4 separate regions of the Homo sapiens genome follow, and regions 2, 3 and 4 are each linked to region 1. The links come from fine-mapping of genetic effects on gene expression. A gene starts in region 1. Each other region holds a variant in brackets. All regions are shown on one strand. Distances are between the middles of the regions.

Evidence for each region. PIP is the estimated chance that this variant, and not a neighbour inherited with it, causes the effect. A credible set is the group of variants that fine-mapping cannot tell apart.
Region 2: its variant is the best candidate, but not a certain one, in a credible set for the expression of BICC1 in sun-exposed skin (GTEx, PIP 0.55).
Region 3: its variant is the best candidate, but not a certain one, in a credible set for the expression of BICC1 in blood mononuclear cells (TOPMed, PIP 0.53).
Region 4: its variant is the best candidate, but not a certain one, in a credible set for the expression of BICC1 in blood mononuclear cells (TOPMed, PIP 0.61).

The regions. Positions count from the first base shown.
Region 1 is chr10:58,509,814-58,515,625 of GRCh38, reverse strand. BICC1 (BicC family RNA binding protein 1) reads right to left here and starts at 2,754. Exons shown (of 21, transcript NM_001080512.3): 1 at 2,293-2,754. The coding sequence starts at 2,482. LOC124902427 (a long non-coding RNA gene) reads left to right here and starts at 3,574. Exons shown (of 2, transcript XR_007062147.1): 1 at 3,574-3,966.
Region 2 is chr10:58,615,731-58,621,542 of GRCh38, reverse strand. BICC1 (BicC family RNA binding protein 1) reads right to left here. Exons shown (of 21, transcript NM_001080512.3): 2 at 642-688. Among named protein-coding and RNA genes, the nearest start is that of BICC1, 110 kb to the right of the region's middle. The variant C/AC (reference allele first, on the strand shown) is at 2,523.
Region 3 is chr10:58,589,547-58,595,358 of GRCh38, reverse strand. All of the region lies in intron 1 of BICC1 (BicC family RNA binding protein 1), which reads right to left. Among named protein-coding and RNA genes, the nearest start is that of BICC1, 80 kb to the right of the region's middle. The variant G/A (reference allele first, on the strand shown) is at 3,456.
Region 4 is chr10:58,558,800-58,564,611 of GRCh38, reverse strand. All of the region lies in intron 1 of BICC1 (BicC family RNA binding protein 1), which reads right to left. Among named protein-coding and RNA genes, the nearest start is that of BICC1, 49 kb to the right of the region's middle. The variant A/G (reference allele first, on the strand shown) is at 2,885.

The sequences.
Region 1 (5,812 bases):
ACTAACCACATACACTACAATGGTCCCGTAAGATTATAAAGAAGCTGAAAAATTCCTATCGCCTAGTGATGTCATAGCCATAGTAACATAACACATTACCTTTCCAATGTTTAGATATATTTAGATACACAAATACCACTGTGCCACAACTGTCTACAGTATTGGGTATAGTAACACGCCTTGTAGCCTAGTAACATTATTTGTAGCCTAGGAGCAATAGACTATACCATATAGCTTAGGTAGTAGGTGTAGCAGGCTACACAACCTAGGTTTGTGTAACTACACTCCATGATGTTTGCACAATGAAAATGCCTAAGGACACATTTCTAACAAGGTATCCCAGTCGTAGTCCTTAAGCATGGACTGCATGACTGTATATCGGTTGTTCAAGAGATGTTAAGACTTTCTGTAAAAGAAACTATTACTGCAAAGCAATTTCAAACCGTCTCAGATCGTAGTATCACATCTATTAATACAAAAGAGCCTTCAAATTTTCAAAAAGTCTCCTCAAAATTTCATTTTATTCGAAGTGAAAATGAATTAAATCAAAAAAGGAAATTCACTTCTAAAGCTCAGGTTATACACTTGAACTTCCCAGAAGCTAACATCACTGTCCTTACTTGTTTGTGCGCAGGTGAAACAGATCATTCTTTCATATCACTCCAAACTAATGTAGAAAACTGAAAGCTGGTTGAAAAGGATGAGTATGTGCTACTATCAGTTCATTCCAAACGATCTCACAATATATGCCTGACATAAATTTAATATTTTGTTTTATAATCATAAACTAGGCAAAAAGAACCACAGAACAGACGAAATAACTGAAATGAGTTACTGAAATGCAACTGGGGCTTTAATTTCCAAATCTATCTTATAACGGTCTTACTTGAAGAGTTTATCACAGAAGTAACTGTCCTCAAAAGTTACATAATTTGAGAAAAAAAGAGAGGGAAGGGGAGAGACAGAGAAAGACATGACACACATTAGGGATGTTTGTCAATAAAAATAAGCAACAAGGGAGGAAAGCCTGTAGCACATCCAAAAAACGTCTGCCAAACACTCTTGCTATTTGTTTCCACCAAGTTATTGTTTTGGAAAACATGTTGTTCTCTCTTAAAATAACCTGCTTAATTGTTCTAAAAAGCCACTGCATTTCCACAGAGGGCTAAATCATTCCCATACTGCGATGCATTGACTGATAAAGTCAAAGTAAGTTATGCATAAAGCCACAAATAACGTTTGAAAAACTCCAAACTCCTCCATGATAAAAGAACACTAGCTACTGAATGAATCTTCACCAGCGCCCTAAGTGAGACTAACGCCTGGTCCCGTACACGTATTTTAAGAATAACAGTCATTCAAACTAACTCATTTCTCTCTTTGGATGTGGGAAATGAGCCACATCGGTGGCTACAGGTAGGCTAGTAATTATCTGTTTTAAGAAAGGTCAAAATGACCTTGGACGTTTTGACGTTCACTCCAACACTCGTATTATAAATCAGAATCTGTTTTCGGTCCAGTATGGTTGAAGATTTTCTACCTGGGAAAGTCCCAAAGAAATTAAAGAGTTAAAAATAATTCTAAGTTGTGAAAGACAAAGTCAGACACCCATAGCATAGGAAGATTTTTATGGACTGAATGTAACTCAAGATGTGTTTTATAAGCCTGTCAAGAGATGAACACTGTCCTCAAACACAGCAGCACTGCCTCCACACTCCCCCCTCGCTTTGGCTGCTCACCCCGATCCTGGCCCTCCTTGACCACAGGGGTGGGGGCGGGAGCTCCTGTCTTAAGCCTTGACATCTGCAGAGCGTTTCCCAATAGTGAGACAAGGCCCCTCAGCTGGAGGAAGTGGATACTGACAAGGGGAGAGAGTGAAACAGACGGAGAGAGACAGAACTCGAGGCTGCCAGGGAATGGGGAGGGTCACGCATACTCTGTGCGGCCCGAGTGGTCCGGATGGCACAGCCCAGGTGTCCGGGCTAAAGTTGGCATCTCCAAAGTCCAGAACGCAACTTGGGCGCGCCAGTACAAACTCGGCCTTCGGCTTTTCTGAAGCCAGTCAAGTTCGCACAGGGCCCCCAGCGCCTGGAAATCTGAGAGGCGTGGAAGGGTGGGGAGTCCCGCGAAGTCTCCAGTCCCTGGGTGTCCTCCGGCTCCGCGGGGGAGCGGGCCTGGAGCTAAACCGGCCGGCCGTAGGCTGGAGTAGCGGGCGCCGGAGCGCGCGGTGGGGATGTCCGAAAAGGAGTTAGAGGCTCAGTCGGAGAGTCCGAGAACACGAGGGATGCCTACCTTGTAACATGGCCTCAAGTTTCTTCCTGTCCACGCGGAAGCGCTCCTCGCTCCACTCCGGGCTGTGCAGGGTCGCCCCGGCGACCAAGTCGTCCTCGGAGCCGGGCACTGGGGAGTCGGTGCTGCGCTCGCTGTTGGAGCCGGGGTCCGACTGCGCCGCCAGGTAGCCGGGCTCTCCCTGGGCGGCCATGGTGGGCGCGCAGCGCTCGGGCTCCCGCTGCCGCCGCCGCTCTGCCTGCGCTGCCGCCTCCGCTCGCCGGCCGGGCTCAACTGGCTCCCAGCGCCGCGGCGCTAGCTCGTCCCCCTGCAGCCGCCGACGCCACCGCCAACGCCGCCGCCGCCACTGAGCCCCCGGCGCATCCCAGCCCCGGGCGCCGCCCACGCCACCCGCCACCCCGGGTCGCGGCCCCGGTCCGGGTCCAGTGGCTGCGCCGCCCCCCGCCAGCAACGCCCGCGCGGAATGAGCGCGCCGCGCTGCCCGCGCCTCCATCCGCAGGGCTCGGCGCCCCCTCCCCGCCCGCCGCCCCTACAGCCGCGCGCTCATTGGCCCGGCCAGCCCACGGGGAGCCGCGGCGGGCGGGCGGCCCCTGGCGCTCACACACTCGCGCGCGCACACACACACCACGTACACACTGCCACTTTCTGCACTTACACGTATAAATCCTTTCCATACATGCACTTTCATAGCTCCTCAAACACACACACTCCTGAACGCACATGGAGTATCCACGTAATTCCTGTCTACACACACACATCACACACACTACTACTTTTCTGCACTTACACATACAAATCTCTTCCCCCTACATGCTCTCATAATCCTCCAAACACACAAACACAAACACGCCAAGTTCAAGCACAGCAGAGTCCTGAACGCACACTAAGCGCATACACAATTCCGCTGTTTACATACATACCCTACACCCTGAAACTCACAGCCCCAGTTGGTTCCACAAGCTCGAACGTGAGGAAGAGGAAAAAGAAGGCTTGGAGAAGAAATCATGCCCGTCTTTCGCAGGCATCGCCATGGACGTGGCTCGCATGTAGTTCATACCTCCAGGAAGGGCTCAAACCCAGACACCTCGTCTCCTCCCAGCAAAGTGGCCCGCTGCACGAGAGGTGGACAAGAGGCTTACTCTTTTTATTCTGAGAAAGGGAATTTTTTTTTTTCTTGAATGGAGTAAGGAAGGAATTGTTTTCTCTGTGATTCTCAAGGAATGGACTCAGCAGACTTTTTTTTTTTTTTAAGTAGAAAAGGGGCTCGGAGATCGCTGTGTTGGCGAGCTGGATCCAGCTGGCACGTGGGCAGGGCTGTCTTGTCAGGGACTGAGGGCTTTTCTCTGTTTTCAAGGTCAGTCTCTGACAGATGACGGCCAGTAACCTCTGAGCCTCACTGCCGAGGGCCAGCCCACCCACGGCCTCTGTCAAGCTTGGATATGAAGCGCGGGGGAAGAGGAGACTCGCTCGTACTGGGTGTGCCCTTGGAACTCTGTTTTCCCAGTTCACACAGATTCATAGCCTATTATTTTATGACCCAAAGTACAAAGACTTGCGGGGAGGAATGATGGGGATAGCAGTTTGTCACTGCGCCACAGAAGGAGGCTGCCTGGCTCACATGTAGGAAGAGCCATATCACTGGCACAGGCCTCTGGATAATCATGGAATATGCTGAAGGTAAATCAAAATTATTTCAGGTTCAGCTGCCTAGTTAACAGGAATTGACCCTGTGATGGGTACAGATGAGGAAACTGAGACCGTGGGAAATAAAGTAACTTGACTAAGGTTGTCCAGCAGCAGATAATACAGCCAATTAATCAGACCCAGGTCTGTGGGTCTTTATATAAAGTCTTACCTTTTTGAGCGGAGACCCCTCCTGCCCAGAGTCACCTCCTGAAGAACTGAGAGCATCTGCACACTTAACTGCTCTGATTCACCACCATGTGTTCCTTTTATAAACTTGTTAATTACTGTTAATTTCTATCCAAGGCACTAGTTTCAGCACCCAAAGGGTTTATGTAGGAGCATTCCCACTGTTTTCCATCAGGGACATTTACTGTGTTTTTCTATCAACAAATATTTATTGGGACCCTACTATGTACTTGGCACTGTTAAGCCCAAGGAATAGTAAGCAAAGACAGACACATCCCTGTACTCCCTCCTGGAGCTGAAATTCTAATGAGAAGGAATACTGACCAAAAAATAAATCACAAATATAAAATCATGCCCGCAGTAAGCATTACAAACAAGAGACTCAAGATATGAGAAAACCTATGATAGAGTAATTGGATTCAGTCAGAGAGGTCAGTGAAGGCTTCTCGAAACAGTGACTCTAACTCAGAACAGACGTTGGAAGAGAAGTTAACTAGGCAAGGGAAGGAAGAGCCATCCCTGCAAATGATCATCTGATCATAGTAACATCCCTGAAGGTAGATACTACAATTATCCTCATTTTAGAGTTGAGGAAACTGAGGCACAAAAGGTAAAATGACTTGCTCAAGGTTGCACGACTAAGTTGAAGAATAAGAATTTGAACCCAGGCAGTCTCTTGAAAATTAGGCTTCAGGTGCTTTATGCTTAGCCAATAAGTTATATTGGCTCTCAATAAGATTAGCACAAGTAAAGACACTGTAGCAGAAGGGGGCAGTATGCATTCCCCCATTGGATGAACTAAAAGAAGGCCAGCGTAGCTGGTACAAGGAAACAAGGAATTAGGACTCACTGGGGCAGGAGTTATAAGTAAGAGGGGGCATATGTAAGCAGCATAGGTCAAATTAAGGAGTTTTTGTCTTTATCCTTAGAATAAAAGGAAATCATATAGAGGCTGTAAGTAAAGAAAGATGTGCTTAGATTTGCATTTTCAAAAGTTGACTATGGCTCTAGTGTGGAGAACAGACTGAGGGACAAGGATAGATAGAAGCAGTTGGACCAATTAAGAGACTATATGGGAAGTTTAGATAATAAATGCTGCTAGCTTACATAGGTGGTGAAGATGAGAGACATGAGAGGATTTGAGAAATATTTAAACAGTAAGTATCACCAAGTAGATTGGTGATGAATTAGAAATAGTGTGATGGGAAGAGAAATGTTGAGAATATCTCCAGGGTTCTGGCTAACATAATAAGAGAGAGATAGGTGTCATTAACTGAAACTGGGAATATTGAAAGAAAATCACAATGGAAGAAAGTTCATGAAGTTGAATTCGGCATTTTGAGTTTGAAATGATGTTGAGATCTCCAAGAAGAGATGTTGTGTTAGCAATTGAATAGGTCTGGAATTCAGTAAAGGAATCTTGGCTAGAGATTAAAATGTGTTACTTGTTTATAGGTAACAATTCTAGCCATCTACCTGGGTCAGACTGTCTAGGGAAAAAGAAGAGACTTAGAAGAAAAGGGAACCAAGGAATGTGACTTTTTAAAATTCTGACAGTGGTCAAGTAGAGGACAGTGTAATGTGAAAGGATATAGAAGCAGCAGTGAAAGAAGAATGAAGAAACAAAGCTGTGTCATGTAAACTCAGAAAA
Region 2 (5,812 bases), 110 kb before region 1:
CTGCATCCAGCCTATTCGTCTTCTCTTGTCTTACCCTTGTTGCTAAGCCTGCCCCAGCTAAGGCCAGGGCACTTAGAAATGCTCGGGTATTCAGTATAAGTTGGAGATTAACCAATGTCAGATAACACCAAGTCAGGGGGTACAGTACCTAAACTGCATCAGCCTGAGCCTATAAATTTAGCAAAGGATGGAAAACTAGCAGTCTGGCACATTCTATTTGGCCAGTAGAACATTTTAAAATTTGTTTTAATTTAAATATCTTTAGAAAAGCTCCCCCACCATATTCACCATATAGGATAGTGTACCTTACCTTGCACAATAACCCCTTCCTATGTCACATGCCAGCCAAATGAAGTGTGAATGCCACATGAATTGATCCACCTCTGAGCCCTCTTACATTTTGCTTATTTGCCTTTAAGCAAAAATTTCATTAGATTTTCCCTGGAAGGAGCCTTCTTGGAATGGTTAAGTTTCATACAGCATCCCCTCTTTTCCTGGCTAGCTCTGAGTGTTTCCAGCTCCCGTATAGAAACCTGTTCTCCTCCACATGAAGGGGAGCGTTCGGTGGCTTCTAGGGTAGCTGTTGAGATAAGTATATTTCCTCTTACTTATCACCATGACAAGAGTAAAAGACAACTTACCTTTTGAAAAAAGTCTTCCCCACTTCTGCCTTTCCCTTCAGCAGCAGCTGTAAATAAAAATGTGCACATTTAAAATACTTTTTCAATGTATGCATTCAAAAAACTTTCGAGCATCAGATATGAGAATGCAAAAGCAAACAAGATGCCAGCCTTGCTCTCCCACAGCTCAGTGCCTGCTAATATGCCTCACTGGGATGCAAAACTGGTAAAGACTAGCAATCCAATCCATCAATTACATGTCTCTGGATTATTTAACACTCTTTTGCTTTGTCTGAAAGACTCACAAACCCCTGCACACTTAGATGATGAAAGTGATCTCGTCCTTTCATAGTTAAAGAACTATATGAATAAATGCAACTCTCAAAGTAATCAACTGTAGCATTCCAAGCACTTCCTATCTGTGATCAATCCCAGGCACAAAGATGGCTCATGTATATGGCCTACTTCTGAGCTGTTTCCATTTTATGCTTTATAAAGTCTATATAATCTACTTGAATTTCAGCTGGCATCATATACTTTTAATTCACTCCTTCATTTGTATATACAAAGAGAGAAAAAAAAACATGAGAATTAAACAGTAATGGTGACGGTCACAGCCAACAATAAAATTGCATGTAACATTAATTAAAATATCACTGTATTTTCATATCATTTTTATAGATAAATGGTAGCCCATAAATACAAGACAAACCCATTTCTCAGTCTGTGTTCATAAGTCTTGTGACTATGAACATTTTGTATTCATTTGTTTTGAGGGGTGGGGAATTTGACTAAAAGGAGAGAAGTGATAAAGAGCCAATAGCATCTTGCTTGCAACAGACTCAGACTGCATCTTTCTAAGGCCAAACAGGACTCTGACTCAGGTGTAGGTGGAATAGTGATTAATGAGAGAAGCCTGGCCAGGACAAAGAAAGGTACTGAAGTGAGAACTACTGGAAATTAAAGTCTGGAAGACCACGGTAAACCAAACACCTGCTAGGTAATACCTCAGCACAGCCATGTTTGTGTGCAGAAGTGCATATGTGTGTGTGTCCAGAACACTTGTTAAAATGACTAAAGACCCAAGAAATGTGGCAGAGCAATCACTTAAGAATCACATTTGTCACTTAGCAAGTTTTGACAAGCATCTACCATAATTTTGACATTGTTAAGTGAAAGATTCAAAACTTGGGAGGCCGAGGCAGACGGATCACAAGGTCAAGAGATCAAGACCATCCTGGCAAACATAGTGAAACCCTGTCTCTACTAAAAATACAAAAATTAGCTGGGTGTGGTGGTGTGCGCCTGTAGTTCCAGCTATTTGAGAGGCTGAGGCAGGAGAATTGCTTGAACCCGGGAGGCAGAGGTTGCAGTGAGCCGAGATTGCACCACTGCACTCCAGCCTGGCGACAGAGTAAGACTCTCTCAAAAAAAAAAAAAAAAAGATTCAAAACTTGAGAAATTCTCTCTGCCCTCAAAGAAATAACAAGTATTTACATTCTTTTTTCACCAACTTAAATTTTACAGTTAAATATAAGACATCTTCTCTATTTTTATAGAAATGTGTATTTTTTACCAACACATTTTTATCCAAACAACAGATTGCAGAGTACATGTTTCTGGAAATTCCAAGGGCAATCTGAGAAAACATAAAAACAAAGGCTAAAAAGGAATTTAAAAATTGTATTCTAATATGTGGTAGGGCTGAATAATGACTCCTAGCAAAGGTGTTCATGTACTAATCCCTGGAATCTTACACGGCAAAAGAGATTTTGTAGATGTGATTAAATAAAAAGATAGGAAGATTATATTGAATTAGCCAGATGGGCCCAATGTAATCGTGTCCTTAATGAAAGAAGGAGGGGGCTCAGAGTACAAGAAAGTGATGTAACAATGGAAGCA[C/AC]AAGGAGAGATGGATACATGACAACAAAGGACAGATCAGAGATGACAAAGATTTGAAGACAGGGGAACAGGCCATGAGCCAAGGAATGTAGGTGGCCTCTAAGAGCTGGAAAAGTCAAAGAAATTATCTTTCCCTATGGCCTCTGTAGAGAATACAGCTCTGCTAACACCTTGCTTTCAGCCCAGTGAAAACCACTTCAAATTTCAGACCCAAAAAGTAAGATTTCTGTTGTTTTAAGCTACTACACTGTGGCAACTTGTTACAGCAGCAAAAGCAAACTAACCTATAATGCTAATGTCTTTTTAACTTTTATTTTTGCACAAATTCCACATCATCAATAGGATGAACTGCACCCAGACACTGTGTCACGCCAAGTGTCAGGTTCCAGACCAAGCGGGAGACCAAGGGGAGGGGGTGGATGAATGACGAGCAGCTGAAAGAACACTCGAGGAATCATGGGGAGTTGTGACATGGCTTTATTCTCTCTCTTGGTGTGAGTGAGCCTGGGCGTGAACTGTGGGTGCAAACCTGGGCGCGAGCCAACCCAGGCGCAAGCCATATGTACAGCGTCAGCAGGATAATTATACCTTTTACAGACAATAGTGGCTCCAAGCCAAGCACGACCTCACATGGGTGATCACCTAATGCACCTCACGTGACGTGGTTATGTAAGGAGTGGAATTGTGTACATGCGCTCCAAACTCCAGACTCACATGCAAGACCGGATGTCTGCCTTGGCCTATTCTTGACCACAGCAGATCCATTTTCCTTACACTCCACCCCCTAGGCCAAGGGAGACATAGGCCTTGGACACACAGCTCCAACACACAGGCCTCATACATAGCCTCTGGGCATGCAAGCCAGGCCCCAGACACACAGGTCCGACACAAGACCTTACACATAGGCTCTAGGTACACAGGCCCCAGACACTCAGGCCCAACACATAGGTCTTACATTCCACCCCCTAGGCAGAGGGAGTTTTTCTAGTGGGGACACATGCCCAAAGGGTGAAACCCTGGACCCAGAGGCCACAGCAGTAATACAGGGAAAAACAACTCCAGGTTATGGTGGGCAACCACCCCATGGTGACATTACACCAATGTTGCTTTGTACATTTAGCCAAGCTTTTATTTCCCTGCCTTTAGGAGCACTGGGGCAGGCAACAACAGGTTACCATTCATCTCTGTACCTGGTCAGAGGAGGTCATCCTTCCTCCCATAGGTTTTGCCACATGGCTTGGCCCTATATGGGCCAGTGACCAACTGGCCACTTCTGTTACTTTTAGATAGTTAACCACAAGGCTAAGCCTCAATAAACTGCCAAGCTGTCGGTGCAGATTACCGTAGGTGTCACCACCTTGGTGATCACCATTCATGCTGTCCTGATTTCAGCCCATTAGCTACTTTGTCCACACTTGGTATCAAACCATATGGCGTCAGTACTAGAGTGAACTGTGACAGCAGTCCAGGCAATAGCAGCACCCCAGCTAGACCCATTCGTATACCATGCTCTATCAGGAATGGAGGGGTGCCTCAGGCCCCATGGCCTTATCTTCCATTAGGACTACAAGTCCCAAGACCTCTTGCAACTCTGCTGCTAAGGGACTTGTATTCAGTGTACTCTGCTGCTAAGGGACTTGTATTCAGTGTACTCTGCTGCTAAGGGACTTGTATTCAGTGTACTCTGCTGCTCCAAGTAGGCACCACACTTTGCTAAAGTGGATGTCTGTGCTAGCCCATTTCAGGGAGTCATTATCCATGAATGCATCCATCCCGCTATCAGCTAAGTCATCCGCACGACGACTGTAGCCCATCCTGCCGTACTCTCACGAGCCTGAAGGGCAGCATATGCAGTTACTAACTGCTTCTCTAACAGTGAATACTGGAGCGCAGCTCCTTTCCACAGTTGGGACCAAAAGCCTACTGGCATTCTCAAGCGCTCCATGCGCTGCTAAAGGCCCCAGCCAAAACTATCTGTGGTCACATGCACATCCAGCTCAAACAGGTACCCCTGGTCAACTACCCGTAGGGCTTGTGCCTGCTGAATAGCCCACCTGGCTGCCAGGAAGGTGGTCTCAGCCGCACCATCTTAAATCTAGGCAAGGGGAGCATTGTCACTTCTAAATCTGCAAGAGAATCAGAAGTTAGCATAATATCATTAACAAGACCATGACATATGGTGGGGCTATGCACATAGCCCTGCAGCAACACTGTGAAAGTCCACTGTTGCCCTCCCATGAAGGCAAACTGCTCCTGGCTCTCTGGAAAAGAATGCATTGGCCAAGTCCACCACAAAGTGGTACTGTCTCAGTTTTGTCAAGCCCACTGATAGACAGCATGGCTGCCAAGCCATGTGAAATATCCATGCCCAAAACGTTATCTGTGCTGGTGTCTACCAGCACCAGCACTTGCTATATGTTGGTGGGGTAACAATGGACTGTCAACTCCACATGTGGCCTCCAGTCATCTGGTGTTCCCCTAAGTCGAACCTCAGCCAGTTCCCTCATCATACAGAAAAGGCTTTACACCCCCACCTGGCTGTAGCACATACGGAGTCTTTGAGCTGAAGCGCCCAGGTGGGACCAGGTTGTGCAGCAATGTCCTTCTCCCATTGGGGCATTTTCTGGAATTGCACAAAGTTAAGAGTACTTCATTTGGCTGTTTATCAATTTTCTCTCAGTCAATCCTGGCCAAAACCAAATCAATCCACATCTCTGAGCATGTCACTTGTTGGGGCCCCCTGTTCTCCAGTGGGGGGACCCCTGCAGGCAGGGCATCTTCCCCTTCTTTATGGAGCAGACCCCTCGGTCTCACTAACAGCCTCCTCGGTATCAGAGTGGGGGTCTCCAGCTGAGACGACAGCCCCAGGCCTGCATTCACAGCAGCCTCTAATTCCTTTTCCGAGCTCTGTAGCCTGGCCTCCAGGCACCCTGCCTGCACCTGAAGGTCCCCACTTACGGCAGCTTCTAAATCTTTTGCTGAGCTGTGTAGCCAGGCCTCCAGGCACCCAGCCTGCACCTGGAGGGCCCTTACTTCTGCTGCATCCCTCAGGGACTGGGTGTGTACTTTTCATAGTGCATTCAAAAATGCCTATCCAACTCTGCCAGCAAAAGCTCACTCCTTCTCAGGGCTTTGCACTTGCAGCTGCTTCAGCACCTCTTCCATGCTCGTGGGGGACCGATTTACTGCCACCACCTAGGTTTCCACCAGAGCCCATTAAGCAGTACAGCTGCCACTGGGCACCATAACTCATGTTGCAGTCACATGCCCAACCTGGAATCAGTGGGGACC
Region 3 (5,812 bases), 80 kb before region 1:
TTGGTCCAGAGCTAAGTTCAAGTCCTGAATATCCTTGTTAATTTTCTGTCTCGTTGATCTGTCTAATATTGACAGTAGGGTGTTAAAATCTCCCACTATTATTGTGTGGGAGTCTAAGTCTCTTTGCAGGTCTCTAAGAACTTGCTTTATGAATCTGGGTATTCCTGTGTTGGATGCACATATATTTAGGATAGTTAGCTCTTCTTGCTGCATTGATCCCTATACCATTATGTAATGGCCTTCTTTGTTTTGATCTTTGTTGGTTTAAAGTCTGTTTTATCAGAGCCTACGATTGCAACTCCTGCTTTTTCTGCTTTCCATTTGCTTGGTAAATATTCCCCCATCCCTTTATTTTGAGCCTATATGTGTCTTTGTACCTGAGGTGGGTCTCCTGAATACAGCACACTGATGGGTCTGACTCTTTATCCAATTTGCCAGTCTGCATCTTTTTATTGGGGCATTTAGCCTACATTTAGGTTAATATTGTTATGTGTGAATTTGATCCTGTCATTATGATGCTAGCTGGTTGTTTTGCTCATTAGTTGATGCAGTTTCTTTATGTTGTCGATGGTCTTTACAATTTCATATGTTTTTGCAGTGGCTGGTACCAGTTGTTCCTTTCCATTTTTAGTGCTTCCTTCAGGAGTTCTTGTAAGGCAGGCCTAGTGGTGACAAAATCTCTCAGCATTTGCTTGTTTATAAAGGATTTTATTTCTCCTTCACTTATGAGGCTTAGTTTGGCTGGATATGAAATTTTGGGTTGAAAATTCTTTTCTTTAAGAATGTTGAATATTGGCCCCTACCCTCTTCTGGCTTGTAGGGTTTCTACGGAGAGATCCGCTGTTAGTCTGATGGGCTTCCCTTTGTTGGTAGCCTGACCTTTCTCTCTGGCTGCCCTTAATATTTTTTCCCTCATTTCAACTTGGAGAATCTCAAAATTATGTGTCTTAGGGTTGCTCTTCTCAAGGAGTATCTTTATGGTGTTCTCTGTATTTCCTGAATTTGAATGTCGACCTGTCTTACTAGGTTGGGGAAGTTCTCCTGGATAATATCCTGAAAAGTGCTTTCCAACTTGGTTCCATTCTCCTCGTCACTTTCAGGTACACCAATCAAATGTAGATTTAGTCTTTTCACACAGTCCTGTACTTCCTGGAGGATTTGTTCATTCCTTTTTATCCTTTTTTCTCTAATCTTGTCTCCTCTTTTTATTTCATTAAGTTGATCTTCAATCACTGATATCCTTTCTTCTGCTTGATGGATTCGGCTACTGATACTTGTGTATGCTTCATGAAGTTCTTGTGCTGTGTTTTTCAGCTCCAGCAGGTCATTTATGTTCTTCTCTACCCTGGTTATTCTAGTTAGCAATTCGTCTCACCTTTTTTAAAGGTTCTTAGCTTCCCTGCATTGGGTTAGAACATGCTCCTTTAGCTTGGAGGAGTCTGTTACTACCCACCTTCTGAAGCCTACGTCTGTCAATTTGTCAAACTCATTCTCCGTCCAGTTTTGTTCCCTTGCTGGCAAGGAGTTGTGATCCTTTGGAGGAGAAGAGGCGTTCTGGTTTTTGGAATTTTTAGCATTTTTGCGCTGGTTTCTACCCATCTTTGTGGATTTATCTACCTTTGGTGTTTGGTGTTGGTGACCTTCGGATGGGGTCTTTGAGTGGATGTGCTATTTCTTTCCGTTTGTTAGTTTTCCTTCTGACAGTCAGACCCCTCTGCTGCCAGTCTGCTGGAGTTTTCTGGAGGTCCACTCCCGACCCTGTTTGCCTGGGTATTACCAGGGGAGGCTGCAGAACAGCAAAGATTGCTGCTTGATCTTTCCTCTGGAAGCTTCGTCCCAGAGGGGCACCTGCCAGATGCCAACCAGAGCTCTCCTATATAAGGTGTCTGTCGGCCCCTACTGGGAGGTGTCTCCCAGTCAGGATACAAGGGGGTCAGGGGCCCACTTGAGGAAACAGTCTGACCCTTAGCAGAGCTTGAACACTGTGCTGGGAGGTCCACTGCTCTCTTCAGAACTGTCAGGCAGGGACATTAATTCTGCTGAAGCTGTGCCCACAGCCACCCACTTCCCTAGGTGCTCTGTTCCAGGGAGATGGGGGTTTTATCTGTAAGTTCCTGACCTGGGCTGCTTCCTTTTTTTCAGAGATGCCCTGCCCAGAGAAAGGAAATCTGGCAGTGTGGCCACAGCAGCCTTGCTGAGCTGCAGTGGGCTCCACCCAGTTCGAACTTCCCAGTGGCTTTTTTTACACTGTGAGTGTAAAACAGTCTACTCAAGCATAGGCAATGGTGGACCATTGCTGAGGACACCCCTCCCCACACCAAGCTCGAACGTCCCAGTCAATCTCAGACTGCTGTTGTGCTGGCAGCGAGAATTTCAAGCCAGTGGATCTTAGTGTGCTGGGCTCTGTCAGGGTAAGACCCACCGAGCCCGAACACTTGGCTCTCAATGCAGAGGATTTTTTTTTTTTTTTTTTTTTTTTTTTTGAGACGGAGTCTTGCTCTGTGGCCAGGCTTGAGTGCAGTGGTGCGATCTCGGCTCACTGCAACCTCCACCTCCCGGGTTCAAGCAATTCTTCTGCTTCAGCCTCCTGAGTAGCTGGGACTACAGGTGCACGCCAACAGGCCCAGCTATTTTTTTTTTTTTTCACACGGAGTCTCACTCTGTCACCCAGGCTGGCGTGCAGTAGCATGATCTTGGCTCACTGCTACCTCCGCCTCCTGGGTTTACGCCATTCTCCTGCCTCAGCCTCCCAAGTAGCTGGGACTACAGGCACCCGCCACCAACCACGCCCATCTAATTTTTGTATTTTTAGTAGAGACGGGGTTTCACCGTGTTAGCCAGGATGGTCTCGATCTCCTGACCTCGTGATCCGCCTGCCTCGGCCTCCCAAAGTGCTGGGAATACAGGTCTGAGCCATTGCGACTGGCCCAGAGGAATTTCTTAAAAATTATTTGAAGGGTTTATAGAGGGAAACAAAAACAATGTCATAGCAGACTATTCTCTAAAGATATTAACTCAGTTCTAGCTGTTCCCAGTTGTCTCCACCACCACCTCTGCCTCCCTAACAAGAAGAAAAAATGGGCAATGACAAAATAGGGCAAAGAACATTATCCTAACTTTAGCCAAAAGTAATACTCGGCTATACAGGGAATACTGCTTGTTATTTCTCATCACAACACATAACAAAAAACCGTCTTCAAATAAGGGTAATTAATACAGTAAGTAAAATGTATGTTTTTCCTCTAATAAACTTTGTTGTGGAAATTTTCATTGCAGCAAGGATAAGTTAAAAACATTATAAAATCACATTTATAAAATTATAAAAGGTATGGAGAGAATACAAAGATGTGTCATATTCTGGAAAGTATATTCTGTATTACTCTATATAATCTAGAAAAACAATAAACAACACCACTTGAGAAACATTGCTAAGCACAACTTTATATGTGGTTAGC[G/A]AACATTAAACTCAATTGCACAGGCCAGAAATAGAAATAGGTACAAGAATTCAGAGCAATTCATTCATTCAACCATCCGTAGAGGAAGGATGTAAATTATAAAAAGCTGAGTGCTTGCAGCACATACCTAAACTCTTGAGAAGGCAATGGCCTTCCTAAAATCATAATATTGAGAGAACAGAGCACACAGCACAACAAAGCTCTCTCACTGCATCTCCTAAATCTCCCCATCAGTTAAGCTTAATTTTCCACTGTGGTCTGAATGCCTGTATCTCCCAAAATTCATATGTTGAAAACCTAACTCCCAAGGTAATGATACTTATCAATAGGTGGGGTCTTCAGGAGGTGGTTAGGTCATGTGAGGAAGCATTCAAGAGTGGGATTAGTGCCCTTATAAAAGAGAACCTAGAGAGGTCCTTTGCCCCTTCCATCATGTGAGGTTACAGAGAAGGCACATCTTTGAAGGCCAGACGCTTGATCTTTGACTTCCCAGCCTCCAGAAGTGGGAATTTTTGTTCATTATAGACCACCCAGTTGATGGTATTTTGTTATAGCAGCCGGAATGGACTAAGACATTTCCCATAGTTTTTACTATGCTAATGACAGGTAACATGAATCTGTTTTTCCGTCTTGACCAAAGAAAGTGTCCCCCTTTCCCTACCCAAGTCACACTTGTGGAGAAGAATATCAAGCTGGACTGAATCCTCCCTAGCACTGCTTATCTTCTTATGACTCAACAGCATCTAAAGCAACGTTAGCAAACATGTATGTGGCACCTTCAAATACATGATGCTAAGCAGATGTGCAGAAAAGAAAAAAAAATGCTGAGCCAGGTGTAACTAATGAAGGTCTATTTCCCAAACTGGGAAGTGTCTATTCAGGCCTTTGAGGGAAGGGAGGGGGGAACTAGTAGAAAAGATCATTGAACTAGAAAAGGCAAAGCCTGAGAGAACCGGTGGTCAAAGATCAGTTTTGTAAAAGCAAAACCCTACATTTTTAAAGTAAAACATTTCCCACTGTTTCCTAAGGATTGGCATGTGGTTATATTCTACACTTCTGCACAATCTTATTTTATTTATGTGGATCATTTGACAGGCAGCTGCCTTTTTAAATAGATAATCTAAAATACCTATAAAACTACAACAATGGGGAAGGATCTTAAATGCTGAGGTAAGTGAAGCCACTTTCACTAGAGAAACTTGGAGCACTTTCCATTAGGCTGTGGATTTGCAGTGAGAGAAAAATTTTTTTTTAAGTCTGGTAGAATTTCCAAGCTTCTGTCTTTCAAATAAAAGGGAAATACACTCACTTCCCAAAGCATCTATCTTTACAAGAAATTCAAGTACTGTAATTATCATAGCCTTCTTCAATACACACTTCAAATTTCTTGGCACTAACTGGAACTGAAAGCACCAAAATTCTCTTATTAAGAAGAAATTTTAAGAGATACTCTAAAATGGGGAGAGATTTGTTTTTAATAGACTTCCTTATAATGAGTCATTTCATAGAGAACTCTAGGATGGGAGCCAAGAACCAGCAGACACAACTCCTTAGCACAAGCAGGCAGTTTACATCCAATCTGGTCAGAGATGTCACGATTCCTGCTTCCAGTCAAGGCCAGACTGCGCATAGCTAGGCAAGGGATAGGCACTTAGTCCTTAGTCAGCAACAGCACTGGTTTTGGCAACTTATGTATAAAAGACAAATTTCTCCTTCATAAAAACAGTCCCATCAAACTCCCCTAAGTCCATTAAAATCAAGACTTCTGCTCCATGCTCAATGAATTTAGTAGAGATAGAATAATAACATACCATTCATAACCCCACTGGACTGATGATAGCTTATTGTTAATCCCATATGAATAAATGAAATTGTAGATTTCCTGGAAATAAATACACATGGGTGAGGATAGGAACAAAAGCTGTATAACTTAAGCCAGGCAAAGGGGTGTGCATATATGGTCCTAGCTACTCGGGAGGCTGAGGCAGGACGATCGCTTGAGGCCACGAGTTCAAGGCTGCAGTGCACTATGACCATGCCTATGAATAGCCACTGCACTCCAACCTGGGCTACATAATGAGACCCCATCACTAAAAAAAATAATAATAATAATTTAAAAAATTTGTAATGGCTGGGCACAGTGGCTCATGCCTGTAATCCTATTGTTTTGGGAGCCGAGGCATGAAGATCACTTGAGACCAGGAGTTCAAGACTGGCCTGGACAACATAGCGAGACCTTGTCTCTACCAAAAATTAAAGAACAAAATCAGCAGGCATGGTGGCATGCACGTCTAGTCCCTGCTACTTGGGAGGCTGGGGCAAGAGAATAGCTTGACCCCAGGCATTCAAGGTTGCAG
Region 4 (5,812 bases), 49 kb before region 1:
AGGGGCAATTGAACAGGTAATAGTTGTCTCTACCCATGTCCAAGGGGAAAAGGTAGAAAACAGCATAATGTCATAGTTGTCATGAAGTTCAAAAAATCAACCTCTTGCTCACTGAGTGACAAGGAGCAGCTTACAGTGATCTCACTGAATATTAGGTTCTTCATCCATAAAATAGGTTCTTCATCCATAAAATGCCAGATATACTGCTGATATTTGAGATGATCAATATTAACTGCCTGCCACCTGTAAAGCCAAGGACAGCCCCACTGGTTCAGACACCATGATCAGCAAGCACTTCAAGCCTCACTGAAAAAGCCAAAACCATTTTCTCATTTATGGACTTGATTTATAGCCATGGAAAATAAACAATAAATGAGAGCAAAGCATTCTGTGACTTTCCTTCAAAACCATTTAATTTTTTAAACAGTCAAGAAAAAGAAAAGGAAAAAGAAGAGTGACCAAAACAATACTCAAAATTACTATGTTGTATGTAAATTTATAACAAAAATATAAAGTTAAAACAAAAAATATTTTAAATTAAGATTAGCTTAAAATATAGTGTTCAGCTTTCACTCTCCTTCAACTTTGGTCACATATTTATCACAAAATATCACAAGACTTTTATTTTTCTACTTGAAAGACAAAAGAAAGAGCCGTACAAAATAAAATGTGGCATAGGATACTATCAGCAATTAAATATATGTGTTTGAGTACTCAAATATGCAATCTACTTTTCACGGCAAACATTAGAAAAACTGGCAACTTTTATCAAGAAATTTCAATCACCCCATCATATTGCTAAACATTTTTATCACTTATAAAATTGCAATCCAAAGAAAATTTATTTGCTGTTGCTAAGAGACATGAAAGGAAAACTTTAAAACACCCCTTTGTCTCTGATTTTCAAAGTACATGTAGTCAAAAGCAAAGAACATGTCATCATCAATGGCTGAGTGGAGGTGTCCAGTGCTAGCCTCTTCCACAAAGAACCAAAACAACAAAGAGATAACTGCACTTTGAGTAGAATGTCTAAGAGAGAACACTGCAAGTTAGCAAGGAAGTGGCAAAAAGCCTCTGGACACAAAAACTCAGGATAGTATCACAGAGAAGGAAGTAAAGCATCCAGCAAGGATTGGCTTGAACCAAGAGGAACTCTCCATTGTGGAGAAAAGGTAAGAGGTAGCCTCCGTTGCCACCATGGATGCCTGCAATGCTTGCTATAGGAAAGCCCCACAGTCCTCACAGAGGACTAAGCGGAGTACACTTTAGTCAGGGTACAGGGAGCTGCCTAAAGTTAACATGGCTGCACTGCTCCCCAGAGAAAACTCATGCTGGGTCTCCCCCGCAACCCCCAGGACCCAGGCTGCTGCGGCACAGAGCCATATTGAGAGATGAGCTACTACCAGAGTGCATCTTTCCCTGGGGCCTAATATCCCTGCAATTCCATATCCCTGTGACCCCTCCACTATCTCACCATGCCTACAGAGAAGGCTGCAGCACAATGATGCCACCCTGAACCCAGTGGTACGGCAATGACTCAGGCATGCAAGCCCATACAGCAACCTGTATACCAAGAAGCAGTGGCCCAGCATAGAGAGGAGACTACCCTCAAGACCAAGGGAGCCCCTATACGCTCCCAAGGACCTGAGAGTCAGCCTGCCTGGCAGGCCCCACACCAAAAAAGCTGTGCCACTGCCTACAGAAACACCCACAGCCCAGGCCACTGAGGCACTTGCAGACACAGCTGACACTGAATACGCCAAAGAAAGCACAAGAAGACAATACTGTTCCAATCCAGAACTAAAATGAAAACACTCTACCAAACCAGCACTACAAGACACATAAACAGAAAAAAAAAATTATCCTTACAAAAACTACATAAAATCAGAAGCAGTGAGCACAGATATCAATGTAAGACCACAAGAGAAGTGAAAAGCAAGGAATATGACACCTCCAAAGGAAAACTATTCTCCAGTAACTGACACCAAAAAAGGAAATTTATAAAGTGCCTGAAAAGGAATTCAAAATGATGATCCTAAGAAAACTCAGCAAGATACAAGAGAATACAGACTGAGAATTCAATGAAAACAAAAACAATTCATGATCTAAATGAGAAATTCAACACAAATAGATATAAAAAAGAACAAAACAGAAATATTGAGGTAAAGAATTCAATGAATGAAATAAGAAAACAAAATTAAGAGCTTCAACAATAGACTAGATCAAGCAGAAGAGACTGATTTTTCTAGGAAGAATTTCTAAAGATAAAAATGGGTCTTTTGAAATAGTCAAGTCAAACAAAATAAAAAGAAAAAACAATAAAAATGAATGGAGAAAGCCAATAAGACAATGGAACACAAATAAGTGAACATATTTTCGCATTATAGGAATTCAACAAAGAGATGGAAAAAGGTATTGAAAATATATTTAATGAAATACTAGCTGAAAATATCCCAAGTCATGGAAAAGATACGATAGCTCAAAAATCCTTAAGTAAATTTAATTCAAAAAAGTTCTCTCCAAGGCACATTACTGAAAACTGTCAAAAGTCAAAAACAAAGAGAGAATTTTCAAAACAGCAAGAGAAAAGCATGAAGTAAAAAGGGACTCCCCATCATACTAACAGCAAATTTATCAGCAGAAATGCTACCAGCAAAAAGAAAATGGTATTATATATTCAAAATGCTGAAAGAAAACTGCCAGCAAAGAATACTGTACCCAGCAAAAATATTCTTCAGAAATGAAGAAATAAAGTCTTTTCTAGACAAGTAAAAACTGAAGAAATCCATTACCACTAGAGCAACCTTATAAGAAAGGCTTATGGGAGTCTTATATCTGGAAGTAAAAGGACAAAATTTAACATCATGAAAGCATATGAAAGTAT[A/G]AAATTAACTGACAGAGCAGATACACAAGGATGAGAAAGGAATCAAACCCTATCACTACAGAAAACCACCAAAGATAAACAATAAGAGAGGAAGAAAAGAACAAATGATACACAAAACAACCAGAAAACAACAAAATAACAGGAGTGTGCTCTCACCTATCAATAGTAATCCTGAATATAAATGGTTGGTTTCAATTCTCCAATAAAAGATATAGAGTTGCTGAATAGATTTTTTTAAAAAAAGAAACAAGACCCAGTTATATGCATATAAGAAACTCATTTCACCTATAAAGAACACACAGACTGAACATGAAGGGATGAACAAGAATATTCTACACAAAGAGAAACCAAAACTAAATGGGAGTAGCTATATTTATATTAGATAAAATGAATTTTTAAGTCAAAAACTATAAAAAGAGAAAAAAAGTCATTATATAATGATAAAGAGATCAATTCAGCCAGAAAATATAATTATTGTAAATATATGCACCCAGCACTGGAAAACCCAGATACATAAGCATGAATTAATAGATCTAAATATTATTATATTAAAAGGGAGAGACAGGCCCCAATACAATAATAGTTGAGGACTTCAACACTCTACTGTCAATATTGAACAGGTCATCTAGATAGAAAAATCAACAGCAACAAAAATCAGTCTCAAATTGCATCACAGACCAAATGGACCTGACAGACATTTACAGAACATTTCATCCAACAGCTACTGTATACACATTCTTATGAGCACATGGAGAATTCTCCAGGATAGACCAGATAATAACCCAAAAACAAGCCTCAACCTATTTTTAAAAATTGAAATCATATCACAATAGAATAAAACTAGGAATAAATAAGAACTTTGGAAACTGTACAAATAAATGGAAATGAAAATATGTTCCTGAACACCAGTAGAGTCCAGTAGAGTGATGAAGAAAAATTAAGAAGAAAACAAAAAAAATTATTAAACTAAAATACAAACACAACATACCAAAATCTATGGGATACAGCAAAAGCTGAACTAAGAAAACAGTTTACAGCAATAAACACCTACATCAAAACAGTGGCAAGACCTGAAATGAACAACCTCAAGGAATTTAAAAAGCAAAAGCAAATCTTTCCTTCTACCAAAGTCGGTAAAAGAAAAACAAATTTAAAGATCACAGCATAAATAAACAAAATAGAGACTAAAAAAATACAAAAGATCAATGAAATCGAAATACAGTTGTTTGAAGAGATAAACAGAATCAATAAACCACTAGATAGACTAACCAGGAGAAAGAGAGAATACCCGAATAAACAAAATCAGAAATAAAAGAGGAAGACATTACAATTGATAACACAGAAATACAAAAGATCAGCGCTTGTTATGAACAACTTTATGTTAACAAACTAGAAAACCTAGAGGAAATGAATAAATCCCTTGACACATACAACCTATCAAGATTGAACCAGGAAGAAATAGAAAACTTAAACAAACTAATAATGAGTAAGGAGATTGAGTCAGTAATAAAGTCTCCTAACAAAGAAAAGCTCAAGAATGGATGACTTTCCTGCTAAATTCTACCAAACTTATAAAAAAACTCACATTTATTCTTCTCAAATCACTCCAAAAAATTGAAGAGGAGGTAATTCTTCCTAACTCATTCTATGAGGCCAGCATTACCCTAATACCAAAGCGAGACAAAGACACTGCAAAAAAAAAAAGAATACTGCAAGCCAAAACCCCTGATAAACCTAGATGCAAAAATCCTCAACAAAACACTAGCAAACCAAATCCAACAACACATCAAAAAATTACACAACATGATCAGGTGGGCTTTATCCCAGGAATACATGCAAATCAATAAACATGATATATCACAAAATGAACAAAACCTAAATGATTATTTCTATAAACACAGAAAAAGCATTTGATAAAATTCGACATCCCTTCATGATAAAAATTCTCAACAAATTACACATAGAAGGAATGTACCTCAACACAATAAAGGCCATACATGACAACCCCATAGCTGACGCCATACTGAACAAGGGAAATGTGAAAGGCTTTCCTCTAAGAATTGGAACAAGAAAAGGATATCCACTTTTACCACTCACATTCAACATAGTACTGGAAGGCTTAGCCAGAACAATTAAGGAACAGAAAGAGCATCCAAACTGGAAACAAGGTAATCAAACTGTTTCTGTTTGCAGACAATATAATCTTATATACAGAAAAACCTAAAGTCTCCACCAATTCTTAGAACTGATAAATGAATTTAATAAAGGTGTAGGACACAAAATCAAAATACAAAATTTGGTAGCATTTCTATAAAGCAATAATGAAAGAGCTGAAAAACAATTCAAGAAAGCAATCTCATTTACAATATCTACTTACCAAAAAAAAAACACAAATGCCTAGAAATAAATTTAGCATGCAAAAAGTGAGTAAGCATGCTACCATTTTTCAGTTCTGTAAATCCTTTACAACTTTAATTTTAGTATTTCTCAGCATTGTGACTGAACACTGAGATTTCTGCTATATTTTACAGACTCTCAGATAAGTCATTATAAATCTCCTAAATATATATAAATACATTATTTTTCGGGGCTCAATTATGAAAGTAAAAGTCCTGGGGGGGTGGTTATTAATTAAAACACATCATGAAGTTAGCAACAGCAACAAGTACCACAAAAGGCAATCCTAAGTGCTATGGTTTGAATATTTGTATGGTTTGAATATTTGTATCATCTCAAAATTCATTTTTGAAACATACTCTCAAGGTGATTGTATTAGGAGGTGGAACTTTGGGAGGTGATTAAAGTGTAAGGAAAGAGCCCTCATAAATGTGATCAGTGACCTTATAAAAGAGAACCCAGGTAAATGCCTTGCCCTTTCCATTATGTGAGGATGCAGCTAGAAGGCATCATCTATGAGGAACAGGTCCT